7 linked regions of the Homo sapiens genome follow. The protein of the gene in region 1 purifies or fractionates together with the protein of each later gene. This does not show direct contact. Each region holds a gene or a part of one and is shown in the gene's direction. Other genes may lie near its edges.

Region 1 (3,500 bases):
TTGGCTATGCAGACACTTTTTAGTTTAAGTCCCATTTGTTTATTTTTATTGCCTATACTTTTGAGGTCTTAGGCATAAAATCTTTGCCGAGACCAATGTGCAGGAGAGTTTTCCCTTCATTTTCTTCTAGTGTTTTTTTTTTCTATGGAAAATAACCTTTTTTTTTTTTTTTTTTTTTTTTTGAGACAGACTCTTGCTCTGTTGCCCAGGCTGGAGTGCAGTGGCACAATCTTGGCTCACCGTAACCTCCACCTCCTGGATTAAAGTGATTTTCCTGCCTCAGCTCCCAAGTAGCTGGGACTACAGTTGTGTGCCACCATGCCCGGCTAATTTTTTTAGTAGAGACAGGATTTCACCATGTTGGCCAGGCTGGTCTTGAACTCCTGACCTCAAGTGATCCACCTGCCTTGGCCTCCCAAAGTGCTGGGATTACAGGCATGAGCTGCCACACCCAGCTGGAAAAAGAACCTTTAATAGAACAATTATTGAGAATATCGTACTAACAAAGTTTCTCAAGAGACTAATTAGAGCTAAAATGGTGAAAGTAGGATGATCTTTGTTTTTCGTTTTTTGTGGGTACAAGGGGTGTGTGTGTGTGTGTGTGTGTGTGTGTGTGTGTATGCATTTTTTTTTTTTTTTCCAGATGGAGTCTTGCTGTGTCACCTGGGCTGGAGTGCAATGGCGCGATCTTGGCTCATTGCAACCTCCGCCCCCTCGGGTTTAAGCGATTCTCCTGCCTCAGCCTCCTGAGTAGCTGGGTCTATAGGCATGCGCCACCACGCCCAGCTAATTTTGTATTTTTAGTAGAGACAGGGTTTCTCCATGTTGGTCAGGCTGGTCTCAAACTCTCGACCTCAGATGATCCGCCTGCCTCGGCCTCCCAAAGTGCTGGGATTACAGGTGTGAGCCACCTCGCCCAGCCAGGTGTATATATTTATGCAGTACATGAAATATTTTGCTACACTTATGCAATGCGTAATAACCACATCATGGAAAATGGAGTATTCCTTCCCTTAAGCATTTATCCTTTGTATTAGAAACAATCCAATTATACTCTTTTAGTTATTTTTAAATGTACAATTATTATTGACCGTAGTCCCCCGTTCTATCAAATACCAGGTTTTATTCATTCTATTTTTTTTTTTTAATCATTAACCATCCTCCCACCCCCCATCCCCACACTACCCTTCTCAGCCTCTGGTAACCACCCTTCTGTTCTCTGGCTCCATGAGTTCAATTGTTTTGATTTTTAGATCCCACAGATAAGTGAAAACATGCAATATTTGTCTTTCTGTGCCTGGCTTATTTTGCTTAACATAATGACCTCCATGTTCCATATATCTTATTGCAAATGACAGAATCTCATTCTTTTTTATGGCTGAATAGTACTCCATTGTATGTAAGTACCACATTTTCTTTATCCATTTTCTTTATCCATGTATCATCCATTCAAATGACAGAATCTCATTCTTTTTTTCTGGCTGAATAGTACTCCATTGTGTGTGTGTGTACATTTTCTTTATCCATTCATCTGTTGTTTTTTTTTTTTTTCCATTCATCTGTTGATGGACACTTAGGTGGCTTCCAAGTTTTAACTATTGTGAACCGAGCTGCAGCAAACATGGGAGTGCAGATGTCTCTTCAATATACTGATTTCCTTTTTTTAGGTATATACCCAGCAGTGGGATTGCTGGATCATATGGTAGCTCTATTTTTAGTTTTTTGAGGAACCTCCAGACTTTTCTCCATAGTGGTTATACTAATTTACATTCCCACCAACAGTGTACAAGGGTTCCCTTTTCTCCACATGCTTCCCAGCATTTGTTATTGCCTTTTTGCTATAAGCCATTTTAACTGGGGTGAGATGATACATTGTAGTTTTGATTTGCATTTCTCTGATGATCAGTGATGTTGAGGACCTTTTCATATGCCTGTTTGCCATTTGTATGTCTTCTTTTGAAAAATGTCTATTCAAATATTTTGCCCAGTTTTAAATCAGATTAAGGTTTTTCCTATAGAGTTGTTTGAGCTCTTTGTATATTCTGGTTATTAATCCCTTGTCAGATGAGTAGTTTACAAATATTTTCTCCCATTCTGTGGCTTGTTTCTTCACTTTGTTGATTGTTTCCTTTGCAGTGCAGAAACTTTTTAACTTGATGAGATCCCATTTGTCCATTTTTGCTTTAGTTGCCTGTGCTTGTGGGGTATTACTCAAGAAATTTTTGCCCAGACTGATGTCCTGGAGAGTTTCCCCAATATTTTCTTGTAGTAGTTTCATAGTTCAAGGTCTTAGATTTAAGGCTTTAATCCATTTTAATTATATTTAAAAAAATTTAAAAAAAAATAAAAAAAATAAAAAAAAATTTTTTTAAAAAATATTTTTGTATATGGTGAGAGAGAGGGGTCTAGTTTTATTCTTCTACATATGGATATCCAGTTTTCCCGGCACCATTTATTGAAGGGACTGTCTTTTCCCCAATGTATATTCTTGGTGCCTTTGTCAAAAATGAGTTCGCTGTAGTTGTGTGGATTTGTTTCTGGATTCTCTATTCTGTTGCACTGGTCTATGTGTCTTTTTTTTTTTTTTTTGCCAGTACCATGCTGTTTTGGTTACTATAGCTCTGTAGCATTGTAATTTGAAGTCAGGTAATGTGATTTCTCTAATTTTGTTATTTTTGCTCAGAATAACTTTGGCTATTCTGAATCTTTTATGATTCCATATACATTTTCAGATTGTTTTTTCTATTTCTGTGAAGAATGCCATTGGTTTTTTGATAGGGATTGCATTGAATCTATAGATTGCTTTGGGTAGTATGGACATTTTAACAATATTGATTCTTCCAATCCATGAACGTGGAATATGTTTCCATTTTTGGTGTCCTCTTCAATTTCTTTCATCAGTGTTTTATAGTTTTTTGTTTTTTTTGTTTGTTCTTTTGAGACAGAGTCTCATTCTATTGCCCAGGCTGGAGTGCAGTTGCATAATCTCGGCTCACTGCAATGTCTGCCTCCCAGGTTCAAGTAATTCTCATGCCTCAGCCTCCCAGGTACCTGGGATTACAGGTATGCGCCACCACCACCTGGCTAATTTTTGTATTTTTAGTAGAGATGAGGTTTCACCATATTGGCCAGGCTGGTCTCAAACTCCTGGCCTCAAGTGATCCACCTGTCTCGGCCTCCCAAAGTGCTGGGATTACAGGCCTGAGCCACTGCGCCCAGCCTGTAGTTTTCATTATAGAGATCTTTCACTTTGGTTAACTCCTGGGTATTTAATTTTATCTGTGGCTATTGTAAGTGAGATTACTTTATTTATTTCTTTTTCAGATTGTTCACTGTTGGCATATAGAAATGCTACTAATTGTTGTATGTTGATTTTGTATCCTGAAACTTTACTGAATTCATCAGTTCTAATAGTTTTTTGGTGGAGTCTAGGTTTTTCTAAATATAAGATCATCATATCATCTGCAAACAAGGATAGTTTGACTTCTTCCTTTACAATT
Region 2 (3,500 bases), on another chromosome or scaffold:
TGTTGCCCAAGCTGGTCTTGAATCCCTGGGCTCAAACATCCTCCCACCTCAGCCTCCCCAAGTGCTAAGATTACAGGTGTGAGCCACCACACCTGGCCCGGAAAAGCTTTTTGAGCTGAGGTCTTGGGGGAGAGTGTTCTAGAAAGATGCAAAGGCCTAAGGCAATAGTCACCAACTTTTTGGCTCCAGGGACCGGTTTTGTGGAAGACAATTTTTCCACAGATGGAGGCAGGGAGGTGGTCTTGGGATAATTCAAGCACGTTAATCTTTATTATGTACTTTATATCTAATACGTTGTAACATAGAATGAAATAATTCTACAACTCATCATCATGGGGAACCAGTGGGAGCCCTGAGCTTGTTCCTGCAACTAGACGGTCCCAGCTGGGGGTGATGAGAGACAGTGACAGATCATCAGGCATTCGATTTTCATAAGGAGGGTGCAACCTAGATCCCTCACACGCCAGGTTCACAATAGGGTTCGCGCTCCTGTAAGAATCGAATGCCGCCGCTGATCTGACGGAAGCGGGGTTCGGGTGGTCCTGCAAGTGACGGGGAGCGGCTGTAAATACACTCACTGCAGCTCACCTGCTGTACGGTTCAGTTCCTGACAGGCCACGCCCCGGGGGTTAAGGACCCCCGGCCTAAGGACGGTCTATCATATAATTCACCTCGGCCGGGTACAGTGGCTCACGCCTGTAATCCCAGCACTTTGGGTGGCTGAGGCGGCCGGATCATGAAGTCAGGAGATCGAGACCATCCTGGCTAACACGGTGAAACCCCATCTCTACTAAAACCACAAAAAATTAGCCTGGTGTTGTGGCACACTCCTGTAATCCCAGCTACTCAGGAGGCTGAGGTGGGAGAATCACTTGAACCCGGGAGGCAGAGGTTGCAGTGAGCTGGGATTGCGCCACTGCACTACAGCCTGGGTGACAGAGCGAGACTCCATCTCAAAAAAAAAAAAAAAAGAATTCACCTCTCGAAGGGCACCTGGCAGAAGCTGGGCTCATAGGAGGTCTTCCGTGTGTGGGGGACTGCTGGTCCCTGGCTTCCCTGGGGCCCCATCCTCCTCCTCATAGAGTTGGGGACCCACTCCTCCTGTCCCCACAGAGGTGTGCTTGAAGGACCCCATGTCTGTGGCGGACAGCCTGTACAACCTCCAGCTCGTGCAGGATTTCTGTGCCTCTCGCCTTCCTCGTGGCTGCCCCCTGTCCCTTGAGGACTTGCTGTACGTCCCACCGCCACTCAAGGTAAGGCCATCCTGGGGCCTCCTGGGCCGAGGCGGGCATCTGGGGCCAGGGGTCCCGTCTGCTGACCCGGCCTCCCACCTCCAGGTCAACTTGGTGGTGATGCTGGCCGAGTTGTTCATGTGTTTTGAGGTGCTCAAGCCCGACTTTGTGCAAGTGAAGGACTTGCCCGATGGTCACGGTGAGGCCCTGGGGGCCTGGGGGCCGGGTCGGGGGCGGGTGGGAGAGCCAAACCCCCGCCTGACCCTCTTCTCTGTACTGCAGCTGCCTCCCCCCGGGGCACTGAGGCCTCCCCACCTCAGAACAACAGCGGCAGTAGGTACGCTCCCCACACTGGGCGAGTCTCTGGCATTGTGGGTGTGGGGCTCCATGTCTGCCTTGCTGAGCACTGGGACGCAGCTGGGTGATGCTGTTGTCTCCCCCCGGGGAGAGGCGGAGGAGGAGGTGGGGGTCCTGAGGCTGAAGTACGTCTCTCCGTACAGTTCTCCTGTCTTCACCTTCCGCCACCCGCTTCTGTCATCTGGTGGCCCCCAGTCCCCACTCCGAGGATCCACAGGTGAGGAGGGGGTAGGTGGCTTCTGTCACGGGGGACCCCCCCACTCACAGACTGCCCCAGTGGGCCTCATGTTGTCTCCTCGTGAGCCTTCCAATAGCCTCTCCATCAGATCCCCCTTGGGCATCCCAAAGTGACCCCCAGAATGGCCTCCCCAGTGGCCCCACAGTACCCCGTAGTGACAGTAAATGGCCCCGGGTATCTGTTTCTGGAAACCTCTGGTCTCACTAGACCACATAATGAGCCATCAGTGACTCACCCAATGACCTTGCAGAGGTTGTCCCCAGATGCTGGCTGACCCCACTCAGGGTTCCCAGGGTCCCCATAGTGACCACTCATCGCCTCCCCCAGGCTCCCTGAAGTCTTCCCCGTCCATGTCCCATATGGAGGCCCTGGGCAAGGCCTGGAACCGGCAGCTCAGGTGAGTAGACCTCACAGGCCAGGGTAGGGGGTGGAGCAGGCTAGGGCGGGTTGGGGCCGAGGCTGGTCCCAGGGGCTGACCCCTCCCTCCGGCCGCCCAGCCGTCCCCTCTCCCAGGCTGTGTCATTCAGCACCCCCTTTGGCCTGGACAGCGACGTGGATGTCGTCATGGGAGACCCTGTGCTCCTCCGCTCTGTGAGCTCGGACAGCCTGGGCCCCCCGCGTCCCGCGCCGGCCAGGACCCCCACCCAGCCACCCCCGGAGCCTGGTGACCTGCCCACCATCGAGGAAGCTCTGCAGATCATCCACAGTGCCGAGCCCCGGCTCCTCCCAGATGGGGCGGCCGACGGCAGCTTCTACCTCCACTCCCCTGAGGGGCCCTCCAAGCCATCCCTGGCCTCCCCCTACCTGCCCGAGGGGACCTCCAAACCACTGTCCGACAGGCCCACCAAAGCACCAGTGTACATGCCACACCCCGAGACCCCCTCGAAACCATCTCCCTGTCTGGTGGGGGAGGCATCGAAACCGCCAGCCCCATCCGAGGGGTCCCCGAAGGCGGTGGCTTCGTCCCCAGCAGCCACCAACTCCGAGGTGAAAATGACCAGCTTTGCAGAACGCAAGAAACAGCTGGTGAAGGCAGAGGCTGAGGCCGGAGCGGGGTCCCCCACGTCCACTCCGGCCCCGCCGGAGGCCCTGAGCTCGGAGATGAGTGAGCTCAGCGCCCGGCTGGAGGAGAAACGCAGAGCCATCGAGGCTCAGAAGCGACGGATTGAGGCCATATTCGCCAAGCACCGCCAGCGGCTGGGCAAAAGCGCCTTCCTGCAGGTGCAGCCGCGGGAAGCCTCTGGGGAGGCGGAAGCAGAGGCGGAGGAGGCCGATTCCGGTCCAGTCCCTGGTGGGGAGCGGCCCGCAGGCGAGGGCCAGGGTGAGCCAACCTCACGGCCCAAGGCAGTGACCTTCTCGCCAGACCTGGGCCCGGTGCCCCACGAGGGGCTGGGGGAATACAATCGAGCGGTCAGCAAGCTGAGTGCCGCCTTGAGCTCGCTGCAGCGGGACATGCAGAGGCTCACGGACCAGCAGCAGCGGCTCCTGGCCCCGCCCGAGGCCCCCGGATCCGCCCCACCACCTGCTGCGTGGGTCATCCCTGGCCCCACGACGGGGCCCAAAGCTGCATCCCCCAGCCCCGCCCGGCGAGTCCCGGCCACCCGGCGCAGCCCTGGGCCCGGGCCCAGCCAGTCACCCCGCAGCCCGAAACACACGCGGCCAGCGGAGCTGCG
Region 3 (3,297 bases), on another chromosome or scaffold:
TGATTTTTAAAAATTAAAAAGATTTTAAAAGATGTACAGAATAGGCCGGGTACAGTGGCTCATACCTATAATTCCAGCATTTTGGGAGGCTAAGGCATGAGGATCACCTGAGCTCAGAAGTTAGAGATCATCCTGAGAAACACAGCGAGATCCCGTCTCTATAGAAATCTTTTTTATGGTGTTGTGCACCTGTAGTCCTCGCTATTTGGGAGGCTGAGGCAGGAAGATTGCTTGAGCCCAGCATTTCAAGGCTGCAGTGAGCTATGATCACACCACTGCACTCCAGCCTAGGTGAGAGTGAGACCCCCTCCTCCCACTACCCAAAAAAATTACAGAGTAATGTAAAGATTTGAAGTGTACTGTTCAGTGGTGAGGCCTGAAGTAGGAGGAGGTGGATTAGAGGTTTAGGAGGTAGATTGGATGGGAGCTGGTGTAGTGTTGAGTGATGTGATAGGGGTGTCCAGCTAGTCTTAATGCTTTGGCTTGGTAGGCAGGAAGGAAAGGTTTTTCCAGATCTGATTGATACCTTTGGTGGTGTTTTGCTCTGGTCCCAAATCTCTCTTCTTCTAGTTTTTGGACACATTTTTAGCTGCTCATTTTCTCAGTTGTTAGCAAATTACCCAGAATTCTTTAAAGGCCTGAGTTCTGCCCTACCCCAGAGGAGAAATCTAAATAGAAAGCAGACCGATGCTTGGAGGAAACCCGTTTCATGCTTCTCAGAAAATGTAAATGCTGTTGGAAGTTACTACCTTTAAAATTATTACCATAGGCAAGAGCCTACCCAGGACTGGTTTCTGGCAACTTCAGACCCTAAACTGGGTGGAGCCACGAAATAGGCCCTCTGTCCCAAAGCAGGCCCACTGAGTAATACAACACCCCTATCCCTGGGAGGCCAAAGCCCTCCCTGCCTCTCTAGCCTGCCTGACTCCTTTTGCTTTGTGCCCTAGCCACAGCAAACATTCTGGTTACTTGCACCTCCTGGCTTTTGCTCCCCAACCCCCATCACCACCCCTTCCCCAAATTAAAGCCAAGTTCAGACATGGCATCTTCCAGGAAGCCTTTTTTGATTCCCTTCCTCATAGAGGGAATCGTGCCTCCTTGGGATAATGCTGCGCCTCACAAATGCTTCTGCAGTTGTGCCTTGCTGTCATTAATTGGTTCCTCATCTCCCTCCCCTCCAGGACTGAATTTGAGAACAAAGATGATGGTGTGTGGGTGTTGGTTTTTTAATCTCTGTGTTTTCAGCACAGGGCCTGGCTTACCACTGAATGTTGAATGAATGAATAAAACCATGCTTTATATTTTTATTTCATATTTAGCCACAGACATGCATGATGCCAGAGGACTGGCCTAAAGGTTCTGGCTAGGTTGTAAGGATGAGAATGTCATGCTAATTTGCCAGATTTATGAACAACCACATAACTGTGCTAAACTTGCATTTTCATGTTGACTCCCATCCAGAGGCTCACCTTGCATGTTGTTAGGAAGGTGCATGGATGGTTAAGATTGTAATTAAATTAACACCCTCTCTTTTGTTGTGTTCACGGCAGGTACTTTGTAAAAGCCCTGACACCAGCATTTTTGGTCTGTGTAGGATCCTCTCCTTTTTGCAAGAATTTTCTCCGGGGGAGAAAGGTGTACCAGATACGATGACTAAGCCAGGGCCCCTGGATCTCCTCCCTTACCCTCCTCTGCTGGGAACCTAGCACACCTGAATCAGCTGGACATACTGCTGGAGTCCAGTGCTTTCTTTCCGTCACCCTGGGGATAGTCCTTCCTGGCATCGTGGTGGGGGAGGAGCCTCTGGCTTCCCTAAACTGCAGCCTCTCTGGCTGGTCTTCACTTTCCTCAGTTGATATAAAACTCTGGGTCTTGGCCATGATGTCCTTGGACTCCATCGCTAAAGGGACCATCTGCTGCAGTTACCACAGCAACTGACCTGAGCGGCACCCTGGTCTGTGGAGATGGACTCAGGATCCAGTGACATGATTCTGAACTTTTGTGGAGTTTGACACCTTAGAGAAGCTACCCCTCAAACTGCACATCTACACACAAACAAACAATGCATAGGATTCCAAGGCTTTAAAGCTGAGAGACCCTGGCCTCAAGTTATTTCATGCGCACAGAGGGAAGCCATGTGGGGTTGCTGAAGATGCCTTGAGGTGAAATGGGGGCAGGAAAGCCACATCTTGCTCTGCATTTATAAAGACCGTACAAACTCAGATCCTTGGTACCCCTAAAAAGATTGCCAATTTTCTTCATCTTTGCCATATGGAGGACTGTGACAGACTTTGGACAGTGGCCTCTTGAGTTCCTCTGCAGTTTTGACATTTAGGATTTTGTGTCTTTTAAACTGGAAAATCTTCTAGCATGTTGGGTTGTTACAGAGTATATTTTTGTCTGCAGCTGTTTGTTGCCCCATTCCTAAGAGGAGTTTATCCATCCTGACTTGTAGCTGTGTGACTTCTTGCAGTGCCCCCACCCCATCCCCCCGGGAGAGTGTACTTCCCTGCTCCCAATGCAGAGGGATATGCACAGGCATGAGCTGTCCTGCGTCTGACAGAAGCCTGAAGAGTCATGTGTGGTTGGCCTGTGCTCTTCCCTCTGCTGTGAGAACACATTTCCCACAGAGGAGCCGTTCCATGGAGCCGAGCTACAGCAGCTGGCCTGCAGCCACTGAGTGTCACAGCAATGAGAGAGCAATGTTTGCTGTAGTAAGCAGTGAGATTTAGGGGTTGGTTGTTACTATAGCAGAGCTAATACATGAGTAAACTGAAGCCAGCTGCTGTCCTTAAAAGTGGACTAATTTGAGGCTGGGTGCGGTGGCTCACGCCTGTAATCCCGACACTTTGGGAGGCGGAGGTGGGTGGATCACCTGAGGTCAGGAGTTCGAGACCAGCCTGACCAACATAGCAAACCCCGTGTCTACTAAAAATACAAAAATTAGCCAGGCGTGGTGGTAGGCATCTGTAATCCCGGCTACTCGGGAGGCTGAGGCAGGAGAATCACTTGAACCCGGGGGGCGGAGGTTGCAGTGAGCCAAGATCGTGCCATTGCACTCCAGCCTGGGCAACAAGAGCAAAACTCTGTCTCAAACACAAACCAAAAAAAAAGTAGACTAATTTAGAGTTTTGTGTAGTGTGCCTCACTGTCTTTGAAAGGAAATTGGCTGTGGAATATTTACAAAGAACCATGCAGCTTCCAGGTGCCGGTCCCTGTCTGTGGCTTGTGGCTAGGAAGCTGAAGTTCAGCCTCCTTCCTACTCCTGGTTTTGGCCACTTAAGGACCTGAGGACCA
Region 4 (3,500 bases), on another chromosome or scaffold:
TGAAAGACAGCTGTGCTTAACAGTAAAGATACTTTGCATAGCCTTCTAAGTGGCTAGGAAAATCTTCAAAAGTGATATTCTCAACTGCTCCATCCCTAGTGGCTTTTGTATTTTGGCTAATTAATCAGAAACTAGTTTGGGAGTCACTATACAGAAAAATTGGAATATTGACACTTCAGCATTTGCTAGTGCTGAACTTGATGAAGGAATATATAAATATACATGTATCTCTTGGGTCCTAAAAGTAAGCCTCTAGAGAGGCATTTCATGTGTTTTTATGCAGAATTGACAGGGGAATTAAATGCAGTAGCTCAGAAATTGGGCTAAATCCAGAGTAACAAAACTAATTTTAAAAGCTCTGAAGTATATATTTAGATTTGGCTGGTTTTTTACCAATCTTATTCCATTTTATTCCAGGAAACAACTTATTTTTATACTTTAAACAGATCTTATCTTGGAGAGTGTACCGGAGATTTGTTCCTTAGGAGAATTTTGTGTATTCTTTTTTGGCATATGATTTAAATGCCTCCTTCAGGGTACCTGTGGTAGGGCACTTACCTAAAAGGAAAGACAAAGCCTCTTTTGCATTTTGGCACTAACAGGATCTCTGGATAGTAACTGGCCTGGTGCAGTGCTAGCTAGACTCAGGAAGTCATCTGCCCTGCCACCCTTTCCAAATTCAGAGGCTTAGGTAATTTGTTGGAAATGACAATCGGAAACTGGACTTTTGCTGGATTTTCCCAAAAAATAAATAGAACTTTTTCCTAGGCCTGGAATTGTAAATTTCTCGGAAAAAGAATGAGGGACACCTGGCACAGAAAGTTGTACCCTGAGAACACTATTTGAAGTTCCTCATGGTCACTAGTCTACTTGTTGCCAGCCTTTGTGGCCTTTCCCTTCCAGCATGCACATCCAGCCTGATCAGAATTCAAGTCTTGCTTTTGTCATTTGGCAAGCAGGCTCTGAGGGATGCTTTCTACCTCTCAGAAAAAGACAGGAAGTGTATTCCTCCACACTAGTGGTATGGGCATATCAGCTGAGTACTGGAGAATGTCTGATAGAAGCCATCATTTCAATGCTTATTCCATGAAAAGCAATAGGACCAGTAATTATGCTTTTGGAGATTAGCTTATGGTGAACTAGAATTCTTTTCATATTCTAAGATTTTAAAGTCAAGTTAGTAACTAAATAACCAGGAAAAGTTAAGTGGAAACCACTGGTTTTTATATGTTCAGGGACAAAGACACAAGCACCTGCCTCTTAGGCAGTTGTAAAGATGTATTTTGAGGGCCCTTTCTGCCTGTTTGCATGTGTGGGTATGTCTGTAGGATATTTTCCTGAACTGGGAACACTGAGTCCAAGTCAGTAATTTTGGTAGACATTGCCAAACTCTTCTCCATCAGGGTAGTGGCATTTTATCATCTACCAGTGATGGAGAGGAGTGCCTGTTTTCCCAGAGTATGTTGTAAACTTGTGGATTTCTCCTGATCTGATAGGTTAAAGGTGGTATCTGTGTCTGCTTATGATGACATAAAAAGATGTTCTGAGGTCAGAACATCTTTTCTTAATGTTATAGACCATTTGATTTTCTTATGAAGTGTCTCTTTATGTCCTTTACCCATTATTCTGTAGGGTCATTGAGCTTCTCAATTTCTTTACATACTAGGGAGAGTAGCCTTTCATCTGTGATTAAGAGTTGAAATATTTTCTCCAGTTTGTCATTGGACCGTGTTTTGTGGGGTTTTTTCCACCATGTGGAAGTTTGTTTTTACATAATCAAATTAATCAGTCTTGCCTTTTATGGCTTCTAGATTTTGAGTTATAGGTAGAAAGCCCTTCCCTACTCGAAGGTTATAAAGAAATTTACCTGTTATTTTCTGAGTATTTTTACAGTTACATATTTTATACATGATTTTTTCTTATTTGTTGAGAGCTCCTCTTGTTGTATGGTATGAAAGAATGATCTTTTTTTCCTAAATGGCTATCCAGTGGTCCCAGTGGCAATTATTTCCTTTTTTACACCCCTGATTTAAGATGCTACTTTTATCATATGCTAAATGCCTTGTATATATTTGGATTTATTCCGAACTTCCTATGATAAATAGTACTTTGGAAGAGAGAAATAATCTGATGCTCAAAAGACATCCTAGCCAGAAGGAGAGTAAAAAGGCAATATTGCTTGATTACGTATAACAAAGATGCCAATGAAGATGGAGGGCTGTTTGGGTGTGTTTGTTTGTTTAAGCTTTATTTAGGAGAGAGAACTGAGGAGAAGCAAAGACATCAGAGAATCTAAAGAATAGTCCCAGTCAGGCACAGTGGCTCACGCCTGTAATCCCAGCACTTTGCGGGGCCTAGGCAGGTGGATCACTAGAGGCCAGTTTGAGACCAGCCTGGCCAACATGGTGAAACCCTGTTTCTACTTTAAAGGCCAAAAATTAGCCGGGAATGATGGCACACGCCTGTAATCTCAGCTACTCGTGAGGCTGACACATGAAAATCACTTGAACCTAGGAGGTGGAGGTTGCAGTGAGCCAAGATCACGCCACTGCACTCCAGCCTGGGTGACAGAGTGAGACCCTGTCTCAAAAAAGAAAGAAAGAATAGGCCCAAGCCAGAAACGTATCGTTGACCGAGCCTTAAATATGTTATTTTCCATATACAAAACTAATGAGTGCTAATAAGTCACCACTGGTTTATAAATACCCCATCTCATTGTGAATACCACATGTACCTGTGAATTAGAGCCTTGGAGACACTTAACAGACACAAGAAAATGCCAACAGTTACGTATCTGTTCTGTTTAATTCCTTAATACCGAAAAGTAAAACCAGTAAAAGTTAAAAAGCTTCTTAACCCCTTTGTAGAATAAAAAATGTTTTCTAGAGAAGGGCGATTTTAGAAGCTTTGCTCTAGAAATTTCCATTTGGGATAATCTTGACTCCTTCCCTTCCTTTTTGGATATTTTTCCTTCGGGGAACAAAATCTGTTCAAAAGGGGACTAATCTAACCCAGTTGATGGTCATTTCTTTTCCTACTTAAAGCTTGGTAGTGTTAGCATGAGAGGCAGTTTGTGAAATAGGTGAGGTCCCAGGCTGGGCATTGGGGCTCCTCAGCCATCATCTTTCTTTTGCCACTAATTGTCGAGAGGGCTTGCTAATCAGTGTTTATTCTTCCTGCCTGCAACTGGAAACAGCCCTTGCCTATTCCTGTACAGTGTGATGATACTAAACCAGCTAGGGTAGAAGCACTTGCTTTCTCTCAGCAAGGCATGTGCTGCATAGCCTCTTTGAAAGACAGAAGAATAAATTACAAAGATAAATTAAGCAGGATCTTTGATTTGAACTCATAACCTGGTAGGGGAGCCAGATACATTAATGAATGGTAAAATATCATAGTAGAGGTTTGTAGAAAAGACATGGCAGCTCCAGCAAGAGAGCAGTACCTGCCTGGGTTTGTTGGAGATGGTATTAGGAGGCAGTATTTGAGCAGCAGTAGAA
Region 5 (3,500 bases), on another chromosome or scaffold:
ATTTTTAATAGGGACAGGGTTTCACCGTGTTAGCCAGGATAGTCTCGATCTCCTAACCTCGTGATCCGCCTGCCTCGGCCTCCCAAAGAGCCACCGCGCCCGGCCTAACTCTTCAGTCACTATGACTTATGGGTAATTGAGGCTCAGAGGTATATTTGTCTTTTTTCCATATAAATGTCAAGAATGCTAATTATTAATTTTTAGAGAGAGATCTGTAATAAATATTTATTAGTAATATTTCTGTACTTTTTAATGTGAAATTATATTTATAGAAAATACCTCATCAAGGCCAGGCACTGTGGCTCATGCCTATAATCCCAGCACTTTGGAGGCTGAGACAGGCAGATCGCCTGAAGTCAGGAGTTCGAGACCAGCCTGGTCAACATGGTGAAACCCCGTCTCTACTAAAAATACAAAAATTAGCCGGGCATGGTGGCATCTGCCTGTAATCCCAGCTACTCGGGAGGCTGAGGCAGGAGAATCGCTTGAACCCGGGAGGCGGAGGTTGCAGTGAGCTGAGATCGTGCCATTGTACTCCACCCTGGGCTGCAAGAGTGAAACTCCATCTCAAAAAAAAAAAAGAAAGAAAAGAAAAGAAAATACCTCATCAATAAGTGTTAAATGAGTCATGGTGAATTTTGCTCTTGGTATATAAGAAACTGACCTTGAGTCTTGGTATATGAAAAACTGACCTTGACTTTGGGATTCTTCACAGAGGTACCAGATAAGTAAAGTCTCATCAAATAAGAAAAATAAACCTTACATTCAGATACATATTTAGGTATCTTCCTGGTTTAGATGCAAAGAAACAAGGATTCTTTCACAGGACCTGCATCATGTAGAAAAGGTTTTCAGTATGGTTCAACTGGCAGTGACTTTCAGAAGAATATATGATGAATCACAATATATAGTTCCCCCTCTTTACACTAAAGATTATTTTTATTTACCCTGTATGCTGTTTTAGTTGAATGCCATGTAGCAGACTGTTGGTTAATATCATAGAATGAGGTGTGTTAATGAATACAGTTATTTTCACACACACAAAAATCTAATAAAGAGGAAAGAAAGAAGTAATGAATCTTCAGATCTTTAGAAGTCTTAGAAATGTGTGAATGGGTGGAAAGAATGGCCCCGTTTAGTTTTGTAAAGTCTGTAATTATAAAACAGCTCTTCTACATGACCTCATAGACAATCCCGAGTCCCAGACGCTTTGCAGAGAAGCATCCTTGCCTTTCCTTGAGGCGGTGATCAGGACATAGATAGTGGGAAGGATGTGCCTGGGAGGAAGGTCCCAAGACCACGTCTCATCCTGGCATGCCAGTGCCACCCACCTGCCTGTGCCGCAGTTGTTTGTCATTGACTGGGCAAAGCAGATGACCCATGTCTCACTTGCAGGTATTGACTGGGCTCCCAAGAGCGACCGCATTGTCACTTGTGGGGCAGACCGCAATGCCTATGTCTGGAGTCAGAAAGATGGTGTTTGGAAGCCAACCCTGGTGATCCTGAGAATTAATCGCGCAGCTACTTTTGTGAAGTGGTCCCCCCTAGAGAACAAATTTGCTGTGGGAAGTGGAGCACGACTCATTTCTGTTTGTTACTTTGAGTCTGAAAATGACTGGTGAGTGACATCTGAATTTTTTCTATCCCTCTCTATAGAATTTACATTTGCACTGCTGTGTGAGGGCTCACCATAACTCCAGTTTTTCTCATCCGGAGTTGTGTGGTTTTTTCTCTGAAATTCTCGATTCTGTCTGAGCATTTTCCCTTCTCATGTGCATGTTAAGTTAAATCGCACGTTTTTTATATTAACATAGAGCTATTGTGTCCATGTTCTGATCGCCTAACTTGTTTCTTCTGCAAGATGCTATTACTGTTCTCACTCTATACTGCGCAAATTGCTGTTTTCTTACTCTCATTTACAAATAATAACATTGAAAGAGTCTCCGTTCCCTGAGGAATATTTTTTCTTTTTTTTTTTTTTTCACAGGATATCTATGTAGGATTCCTACAGATAACAATGTTCTTTTTTTTTTTTTTTTTTTTTTTTTTTTTGAGACAGAGTCTTACTCTGTTGCCCAGGCTGGATGGAGCGCAGTGACACGATCATGGCTCACTGCAACGTCCGCCCCCTGGTTCAAGCAATTCTCCTGCCTCAGCCTCCTGAGTAGCTGGGATTACAGTCACCTGCCATCGTGCCCGGCTAATTTTTGTAGTTTTAGTAGAGACAAGGTTTCACCATCTTGGCCAGGCTGGTCATGAACTCCTGACCTCATGATCCACCGCCTCGGCCTCCCAAAGTGCTGGGATTACAGGCGTGAGCCACCACGCCTGGTCAATGTTCCTTCTTTAAAGCTTATTTGCCAACCAAATCTGTGTCTTGGTGTAATATTTTACTTGTTTAAACTGTTGAAGTCAAAACTCACCAGAATCTTAGAAGTCTAATCAGCTATTGCACATTTTTTAAATTACTTCTTGCTGACCCAGTCAAAACACAGGTTTATTTTATGGCCAAAACTTATTTTAACTACTCCTTCCTGTTTGTTTTGATAAGGAAACAATTATTCTCCAGCCTGGCCAAGATGGTGAAACCCCATCTCTACTAAAAATACAAAAATTAGCCAGGCACAGTGGCAGGTACCTGTAATCCCACCTACTTGGGAGGAAGCAGGAGAATTACTTGAACTCGGAGGGCAGAGGTTGCAGTGAGCCAAGATCGTGCCACTGCACTCCAGCCTGGGCGGCAAAGTGAGATTCTATCTCAAAAAAAAAAAAAATTATTTTTCTGTGTGGCATGTGTTCAGCATGACTGGTAAATATCCTTCAACGTAAAGTTGTCATTTACTACTAAACTGGCAGTGTTTGTGTTTCTACTAAAAATAGCAGAGTATACATGACTCTTTGTAGCTGTTTTGTTATTTGTATTCTGCTGAAATTGAAAGAAGGGGATTATCATGTTACCTTTGTAATTTAGTAAAACTTCAGAAATTTTATTCTTCAAAAAGAGATTGGGAATTTGCGGTAAAATTGAGTTATGGGCCAGGTACAGTGGCTCATGCCTGTAACCCCAGCACTTTGGGAGGCCGAGGCAGGTGGATCACCTGAGGTCAGGAGTTCGAGACCAGCCTGACCAACACGGATAAACCCTGTCTCTACTAAAAATACAAAAAAATTAACGGGGTGTGGTGGTGCATGCCTGTAATCCCAGCTACCTGGGAGGCTGAGGCAGGAGAATCTCTTGAACCCAGTAGGCAGAGGTTGCGGTGAGCCGAGATCACGCCATTGCACTCCAGCCTGGGCATCAAGAGTGAAACTCCGTCTCAAAAAAAAAAAAAAAAATTGAGTTACGAATTTGAAACATACATTTTTCTTTCAAATGTGAAATCAAGGCTAACAAAATGTTACCTGCTAGAAACTATTTGGAAGTTTCATTGTAATGAGATAGGAAACTAACTTCATTAATATTCTCTCAAGGCTAAACTTTATGTCAGCTGGTACTCCTT
Region 6 (3,500 bases), on another chromosome or scaffold:
TTAATGGAGGGGACTACTTATATATTCTCTTGATATTGCCATTAGCAACTGCCTCCCTCTTTATTGGAAATAAAATATTGGCCACGTTGGGAGAGCTCTTTTTTTTTTTTATGGTCTTATAAATTCAACAGGAACTTACTGAGAATGTCTGGGCCTGTCAGATATGTGCCAAGGAGTCTTTTAGGCACTTCAGGGGATAATCCAGTGGGAAAAGAGTGTGGCACTGGAAATGGGTCAAGTGTGTTTGGAGAAAGGCCAGTATGTGTGTGACCTGATGGAAGTGGTAGAAAATAAGGTGAGGTGGGTAGGGAGGGCTCTTTGGGAAATAAAATGTAAATTCTTGCATTAGTCAGTGTTCCTGGGAGTATTTTTGAATTGATGATGGTGTGAATTCCTCCTTTTTTTTTTCTTTTTTGCAATGGAAATCCTCTTCTTTTTAAAAGAGTACAACATTCAAGGGCTGTATATGAGTTTTATGAGGCTTATTGCATCAAGGAATTATATCCACTTAAAAAGGAGGTAGTTTTAGGCCGGGTGTGGTGGCTCACGCCTGTAATCCCAGCACTTTGGGAGGCCGAGGTGGGTGGATCACGAGGTCAGGAGATCGAGACCATCCTGACTAACACTGTGAAACCCCGTCTCTACTAAAAAAAAAATACAAAAAATTAGCTGGGCATGGTGGCATGTGCCTGTAATCCCAGCTACTTGGGAGGCTGAGGCGGGAGAATCGCTTGAACCCAGGAGGCAGAGGTTGCAGTGAGCTGAGATTGTGCCATTGCACTCCAGCCTGGGCGACAGAGTGAGACTCTGTCTCAAAAAAAATATGTAAATAAAAATAAATAAAAAAAGTTTTTTTGACCAGGTATGGTGGCTCATGGCTGTAATCCCAGCACTTTGAGAAGCCAAGGTGGTCAAATTGCTGTATCTCCAGAGTTTGAGACCAGCCTAGGCAACATAGTGAGATCCCTATCTCTATAAAAAGTAAAATTAGCTGGGTGTGGTTGCACATGCCTATAATCCCAGCCACTTGAGAGGCTGAGGTGAGATGATCACTTGAGCCCAGGAGGTTGAGGAAACAGGGGAAACAAAGCAGCTTCTTTGCTGTTCTTTTATTATGAGGTTTAACTGACATTGCCTTTTATTATAAGTTCCAGTGAATAATCAAAGTGATGCTTTGGCTAGCCATGTTTAATTTTTCTTAGATTTCTAGCTGTCTAGTATCAATAGGCATTTTTCCAGAACACACAGTATATGTTATTTGTAGTATATTCAAAACTATCTAAGTTGAAAAAAATAAAGAATTGTACAGAGCTTTAAGAACGTGTTCTGCTGGGTGTGGTGGCTCACGCCTGTAACCCCAGCAGTTTGAGAGGCCAAGGCAGACAGATCACTTGAGGCCAGGAGTTCGAGACCAGCTTGGGCAACATGGCGAAACTCTGTCTCTACAAAAAAATTACAAAAATTAGCCAGGCATGGTGGTGCATGCCTGTAGTCCCAGCTGCTCAGGAGGCTAAGGTGGGAGGTATGACTTGAACCCAGGAAATGAAGATTGCAGTGAGCCTAGATTGAGCCACTGTACTCCTCCAGCCTGGGTGACAGAGCCAGACCCTGTCTCAAAAAAAAAAAGGAAAAAAAAGTCCTGTTTTTCAGTCCTCAGTCTCAGGGTCTGTTTCTTCTCATCTCCTTGGACAGCACATAATAGTAGACTAAAAGTCTTAAAAGAGAACACTCGCTTTAATACTTATGCATTAGAAACAAACTGCAAAATAACTAAATAATAAATTCTGGCTTCTAGTTGGTTACGTTTCTGTTTTGGCTTCCCTACTGTATTTGGAACTCGCTGGCTTTGGTTTTCCTGATTTGACTTTTTATTTAAATCCCCCTGGCTTTTATGCAGGTTTATTGACTGGTGTAGTGGTAGACTCTGGAGATGGTGTGACTCACATTTGCCCAGTATATGAAGGCTTTTCTCTCCCTCATCTTACCAGGAGACTGGATATTGCTGGGAGGGATATAACTAGATATCTTATCAAGGTAAGTGAAAGGAAAATATCATGGAAATTAAATTTTGTAATTTGTTTACCACCTTAACACAGAATTGAATCTATCGTTTTAGGATTCCAGCAAATCTGTACCACTAGAGAAATTATCCAATTACCTCCCTTATTTATATAAAAATTCATATAAGATTTATACACATGAAGAAAAAAGAAGATACATTAAAAACAAGGAAAAAAGTGTACACACATGATCTCTGTATACTAATGAGAGTACATTATATCATTACATAATTATATTTGTTATTCCTGAGGAGTGAGTAGACAGATATTTCAAGGATAGAAGAGACCCCTAATTTGAAACTTTCTTGGACAGCTCAGGCAGCCTTTTCTGCCATAAAACCTTTCTTTGAGCAGGTATGTTTTAAGCCATGATCTTGGTTGGGTTGTCTGCTCTTGTCCTTTCCTACAAAATACAGTGATAGCAAATTAATGATATTTGAGGAAAACAGCCCAAATACGCCAGACTTTAATATTTAGTAGTTTTCATGGAATAGATGCAGTTTTTAATATTTACTATTTTAGTTTATTTCTGAATATAACTAGTTATAATTTTCTTTAAAACATTACTGGAGAAAGTACATAAGGTGTCTACTTGCTAACATATATCATTTTTAATATTAAAATAAAATTTAGAAAATTGTTTATACCACAATTCTATAATCAGTCTATCCTCTCCAGGACAGTGGTTCTCACCAGGGGACAGTGCTGTCCTCTGGGGGATATTAGCAATTTCTGGACACATTTTTGGTTGTCTGAGCTGGGCAGGAATGCTACTGAACATTCTATAATGAATAGGGCTGGCTGCACAACAAACAATGTATAGTCTGTCAGTGGTGCTGCTATTAAGAAACCCTGTCTCTGCATTAAATTGGGTTGCACTGTCTTTACCTTGACATTGGGTTCCTTCAGTCTCATTTAAAGTAATCCTCCTCATGAGGGGAGATTAAATTAATGAGAATTATAATACTCTCATTTTAGGCCAAAATTCAAAGCGTAACTAACAGAATTTCTGGGGTTGTCTTTAGAACACAGACTCAAATATTAGAGGATTTTTTTTTTATTTGTAAAGTCTAGTAATTTTTTTTCTCTCAGTGGGTTTTTAAAAAAATAGTAGTATTTTCTAGCATTTAAGAAATGTAACAATGGAGATTATACCTTTGAGTATCCCAATAATTCCCTTATCATTCGTTAAACAAATGCTATTGTCCTTCTAATATGTGCCAGACACAGTACTAGAAGCTAAAGATAAAACTTTTAAAGACTTGGGGGCATTTCATAAATATGGCATTAATTGTGTGAGCAAACTGCAGGCTACAGGAGTCCAGTACTAAAATAATATTTATTCATTAATATACTTTTGATTGTTTATCAAAACTATCAAAACATTAGTACTCATGCAGTGCTTTTCAAAAACTGACTTTTCTAGTCATTTTACTGACT
Region 7 (3,500 bases), on another chromosome or scaffold:
GCAGAGGCTTCAGGGTGAGCCCTGTCCAGAACCCTGCTTGGGTCAGGGAGCCGTCCAGTGTGTCCCAAGTGTGTGGTGTGGACAGGGTGGTCCAATGGAAAGGCAGGCTGGAGGGTTTGAACTGGGGTATGGTTTCTGCTGGGGGAGAGCTGCGGCTGGAGCAGGAAGAGGTGGCCGGAGGTGGGGAGCCAGGGGCTGAGGATGGAAGGCACCCCGGGGAGCCTAGGCAGGCCAAGACAGGTCCTCTCAGAGGGAGGCTTGATGTCTACAGCAGTCTCTAGGAACTAGGGTCCCTGGGCTCTGCATTAGTTTCTCATCAGTGCATGGAGAGAGACAGAGCCTGCTTCTCCCAGGGCCCTTTGTTCCCGTGGTGGGTTAGGGCAGCAGGACAGGTGGTGGGCCAGCTGTGCTGGAAGCATCTGTCAGGGCCAGGCTGGGGCTGGGGGTAACAGTTGGACCAGGAGCTCCCAGCCCCACAGCCCACCTGTGTTCCTTCCTGGAGGTAGGAAGCCGGGAATCCAGGAAGGGGAGGGGCTGAGGCCATTTGGCCCTGGCCACAACCTCCTGAGACGTCCCCTCCATCCCTCCCGCCTTCATTTCCTTTGTCCCTTCACTTCTGTCCTTTCTCTTCTTCCTCCTCTCCTGGTTTCTCCCTCTGCTTCTCCCCTCCTCTTTCTCTTCTCCCTTGCCCTCCCTTTCTGCCTCCCCTCCTCACAGCCCCAGCCTCCTGCCTTGGCACCTGGGGAATAGGAGTTTGGAGAAGGGGTTGAGAGCCCTTTCAAACTTCAGGGACAAGGCCCTTCCTCCTAGGCCCCGGCTCTCCTCCCTCCCAGAGGGTCCTCAGCCTGGGCCTGCATGGGGTGATGGAGGAGGCATCTCTGCCTTCCCTTCTGTGCAATGGTTGCTCTGTCACCGCAGCCTATCAAAAGGAGCCAGGGCACACAAAGCTAGGGAGGAGGAGGAAGGAGGAAGGCCACCAGGTCAGCTTTCTGTTAGAGCTCAGACAGAAGGAAAGGCCAGCAGTCTCAGGAAGCCTCAGCCAGGACTGAGGCAGCCTAGGGGCTGGAAGGCCTGGAGCTCAGGCTTGGCCACCCCGGGGCCAGAGTCTGGGCGAGAGTGACTGCAGTGACCTCATCCCCATTTCAGAGAGGCGGAGATTGAGGCTGAGGGCGGGTCCCCAGGGTCCTTTGTGTTCAAGGAGAATGCAGTTGGGGTGGGCCAGTCGTGTGCCAATTGCAGGGTTGCCATGGTTACTGGGGGATGCCCAGAGCTGTTGGGAGCACCAGGTTCTCTCTTCTCCTCCTCCCTCCCCGGGGGAGGGGCAGCGGGGACCAAGGCACGTGCCAGGTAAGTTCCTGGCACTAGCCAATGGGGGATGAGGATCCTGGTAGCCAGGGAACGGTAACCAAGGAACCGTCGCCTTGGAATCTCCATCACACACCCGCTCCACTGGGTTGTAGGCTGCCAGGGCCAGGGCCGGGATGCTGCGCACTGAGCTCGACCAGCCAGCAATTTCTCCCCTCACTGCCTGCGCCCCCCTGACCCAGGCCTCCAGCAGTACCCTGCTGGGCTCCCGCCTGAACCGATGCCTGGCCCTGTTGTCATGGCTACAGCAGGAGCCCTCCCCGTTCCTGTCCTACCCACTCCATGTCCCTCTCCCTCCCCAGAGCCGTCCCCACCCAGAATTGGCGGCCTGGGCCCTGACAGTTTGACAGCCACCCCTCCCTCTCCCCAGGGCTCTGTACACATATGAAGATGGCTCCGATGACCTCAAGCTTGCAGCATCAGGAGGTAGGAATTCCAGCCATTCCCTCGCCGCCTTCTCCACCCCCTCCTCCTGGTTGTTTTCTTCCCCACCCACCTGGCTGTAGGCCACCTCCCTGCCTGCACCCTGCAGCCCCACACTTGTCTGGATCTGGCGGGTGTCCTTCCTCCAGTCATCCCTGTGTCCCCAGGGTGGGGAGGAATCTCAGAGCCTTGTTGAATGTTGGACTTCTGAGGCTGAGCCTCCAACAGGGAAAGTGACTTATCTGAAGCCACACAGCTGGGACACTTTGGGGGAAGGGCCCTATTCACCGCCTTCCCCAGAGCCAGAAGGCTTGATTGTGCCTCTGGGCACTGGCACCTGGTGAGACATGATGATGTGTGAAGAATGAGACCTGAGTGTGAAGAACAAACACTTCCTCAGTCCTACCCCCAAATCAGGCCCTGCAGGAGTCACAGGCAAAGCTACATCCCTGTGCGCCACCACCCCCACACATACCAACACAAAACTGGGACCCACAGACCCCAGAGGCCAGAAGACCCCTGGGGGTGCCTGTGGAGGCCTGGAGGAGTCTTTGCTTTGAGTTCCAGGCTCTTTTTGGGAAGGGTTTAGGAGGCAGAGAGACCTGACACTCTCCTGATTACCCTAGAAGGGGGCTTGCAGGAGCTTTCGGGACACTTTGAGAACCAGAAGGTGATGTACGGCTTCTGCAGTGTCAAGGACTCCCAAGCTGCTCTGCCAAAATACGTGCTCATCAACTGGGTATGCGGCCGGGGCTGGGGAAGGGGGCTGAGGGCCCAGAGCTGCTCATCAACTGGGTATGCGGCCGGGGCTGGGGAAGGGGGCTGAGGGCCCAGAGCTGCTCATCAACTGGGTATGCGGCCGGGGCTGGGGAAGGGAACTGAAGGCCCAGAGCAGTCGCCCTCCCCGTCGGCCCTCTGACACCCGTGGAGAGGGAAGCCCACCCTCTTCCCACCCCGGGGAAGATGCACCCTATCGTGTAGGGCCCCCCTTGTCCTTTCCTGACCCCCTCTTTGCTGGGTACTTTGCAGGTGGGCGAAGATGTGCCTGATGCCCGCAAGTGCGCTTGTGCCAGCCACGTGGCTAAGGTGGCGGAGTTCTTCCAGGTGCGTGTCAGGGGCCAGCGCTCTTGGGGGTGGGGACAGCCACCAGGGTCTGCGTGCTGGGGTGGGGATGGCGGGAGGATGGTGCCGCCTGAGCACTGCCGTCTTCTTGCGGAAGGGTGTCGACGTGATCGTGAACGCCAGCAGCGTGGAAGACATAGACGCGGGTGCCATCGGGCAGCGGCTCTCTAACGGGCTGGCGCGACTCTCCAGCCCTGTGCTGCACCGACTGCGGCTGCGAGAGGATGAGAACGCAGAGCCCGTGGTTAGTGTGTGTTTGGCACCCGTGGGCTCTGCCTGCGTGGCCTGGTGCCCGAGTCTGGCCTGCCCGGTCCCTCTTAGCTCTCACCCTTTAGGTGTCGGGGGTTCCTGGGGCATTCAGCCTGCTTATGCTGGGTCCTTCGACACTGCAGGGCACCACCTACCAGAAGACGGATGCAGCTGTGGAAATGAAGCGGATTAACCGAGAGCAGTTCTGGGAGCAGGCCAAGGTATGGAACCCTGAGCCCGGCCTGGCTGAGCCACCCCTCATGGACCCCATGGGGCAGGTCTGAGTCCCTCACTGCAGTGGCATGGCCCATGCCACGTGCCCCGCCCCCAGCGCTGGGTTA

The links.
Region 2: the proteins of APPL1 (region 1) and CAMSAP3 purify together in Homo sapiens (affinity purification with mass spectrometry; one large-scale study listed by BioGRID and IntAct). This does not show direct contact.
Region 3: the proteins of APPL1 (region 1) and TTC4 fractionate together in Homo sapiens (co-fractionation; one large-scale study listed by BioGRID). This does not show direct contact.
Region 4: the proteins of APPL1 (region 1) and ARPC2 purify together in Homo sapiens (affinity purification with mass spectrometry; one large-scale study listed by BioGRID and IntAct). This does not show direct contact.
Region 5: the proteins of APPL1 (region 1) and ARPC1A purify together in Homo sapiens (affinity purification with mass spectrometry; one large-scale study listed by BioGRID and IntAct). This does not show direct contact.
Region 6: the proteins of APPL1 (region 1) and ACTR2 purify together in Homo sapiens (affinity purification with mass spectrometry; one large-scale study listed by BioGRID and IntAct). This does not show direct contact.
Region 7: the proteins of APPL1 (region 1) and DBN1 purify together in Homo sapiens (co-immunoprecipitation; one large-scale study listed by IntAct). This does not show direct contact.

The regions. Positions count from the first base shown.
Region 1 is NC_000003.12:57,262,229-57,265,728, forward strand, and holds part of APPL1 (DCC-interacting protein 13-alpha), read left to right. Parts: intron 1-3,500. UniProt on the Homo sapiens protein: Multifunctional adapter protein that binds to various membrane receptors, nuclear factors and signaling proteins to regulate many processes, such as cell proliferation, immune response, endosomal trafficking and cell metabolism.
Region 2 is NC_000019.10:7,609,363-7,612,862, forward strand, and holds part of CAMSAP3 (calmodulin-regulated spectrin-associated protein 3), read left to right. Parts: intron 1-1,113; coding exon 1,114-1,253; intron 1,254-1,337; coding exon 1,338-1,431; intron 1,432-1,514; coding exon 1,515-1,569; intron 1,570-1,732; coding exon 1,733-1,806; intron 1,807-2,154; coding exon 2,155-2,224; intron 2,225-2,324; coding exon 2,325-3,500. UniProt on the Homo sapiens protein: Key microtubule-organizing protein that specifically binds the minus-end of non-centrosomal microtubules and regulates their dynamics and organization.
Region 3 is NC_000001.11:54,739,861-54,743,157, forward strand, and holds the end of TTC4 (tetratricopeptide repeat protein 4), read left to right. Parts: intron 1-1,550; coding exon 1,551-1,653; 3' UTR 1,654-2,797; downstream 2,798-3,297.
Region 4 is NC_000002.12:218,241,189-218,244,688, forward strand, and holds part of ARPC2 (actin-related protein 2/3 complex subunit 2), read left to right. Parts: intron 1-3,500. UniProt on the Homo sapiens protein: Actin-binding component of the Arp2/3 complex, a multiprotein complex that mediates actin polymerization upon stimulation by nucleation-promoting factor (NPF).
Region 5 is NC_000007.14:99,342,898-99,346,397, forward strand, and holds part of ARPC1A (actin-related protein 2/3 complex subunit 1A), read left to right. Parts: intron 1-1,395; coding exon 1,396-1,618; intron 1,619-3,500. UniProt on the Homo sapiens protein: Probably functions as a component of the Arp2/3 complex which is involved in regulation of actin polymerization and together with an activating nucleation-promoting factor (NPF) mediates the formation of branched actin networks.
Region 6 is NC_000002.12:65,251,831-65,255,330, forward strand, and holds part of ACTR2 (actin-related protein 2), read left to right. Parts: intron 1-1,897; coding exon 1,898-2,034; intron 2,035-3,500. UniProt on the Homo sapiens protein: ATP-binding component of the Arp2/3 complex, a multiprotein complex that mediates actin polymerization upon stimulation by nucleation-promoting factor (NPF).
Region 7 is NC_000005.10:177,467,135-177,470,634, reverse strand, and holds part of DBN1 (drebrin), read left to right. Parts: intron 1-1,735; coding exon 1,736-1,791; intron 1,792-2,414; coding exon 2,415-2,527; intron 2,528-2,817; coding exon 2,818-2,892; coding exon of another isoform or gene 2,893-3,007; coding exon 3,008-3,154; intron 3,155-3,302; coding exon 3,303-3,380; intron 3,381-3,500. UniProt on the Homo sapiens protein: Actin cytoskeleton-organizing protein that plays a role in the formation of cell projections. Required for actin polymerization at immunological synapses (IS) and for the recruitment of the chemokine receptor CXCR4 to IS.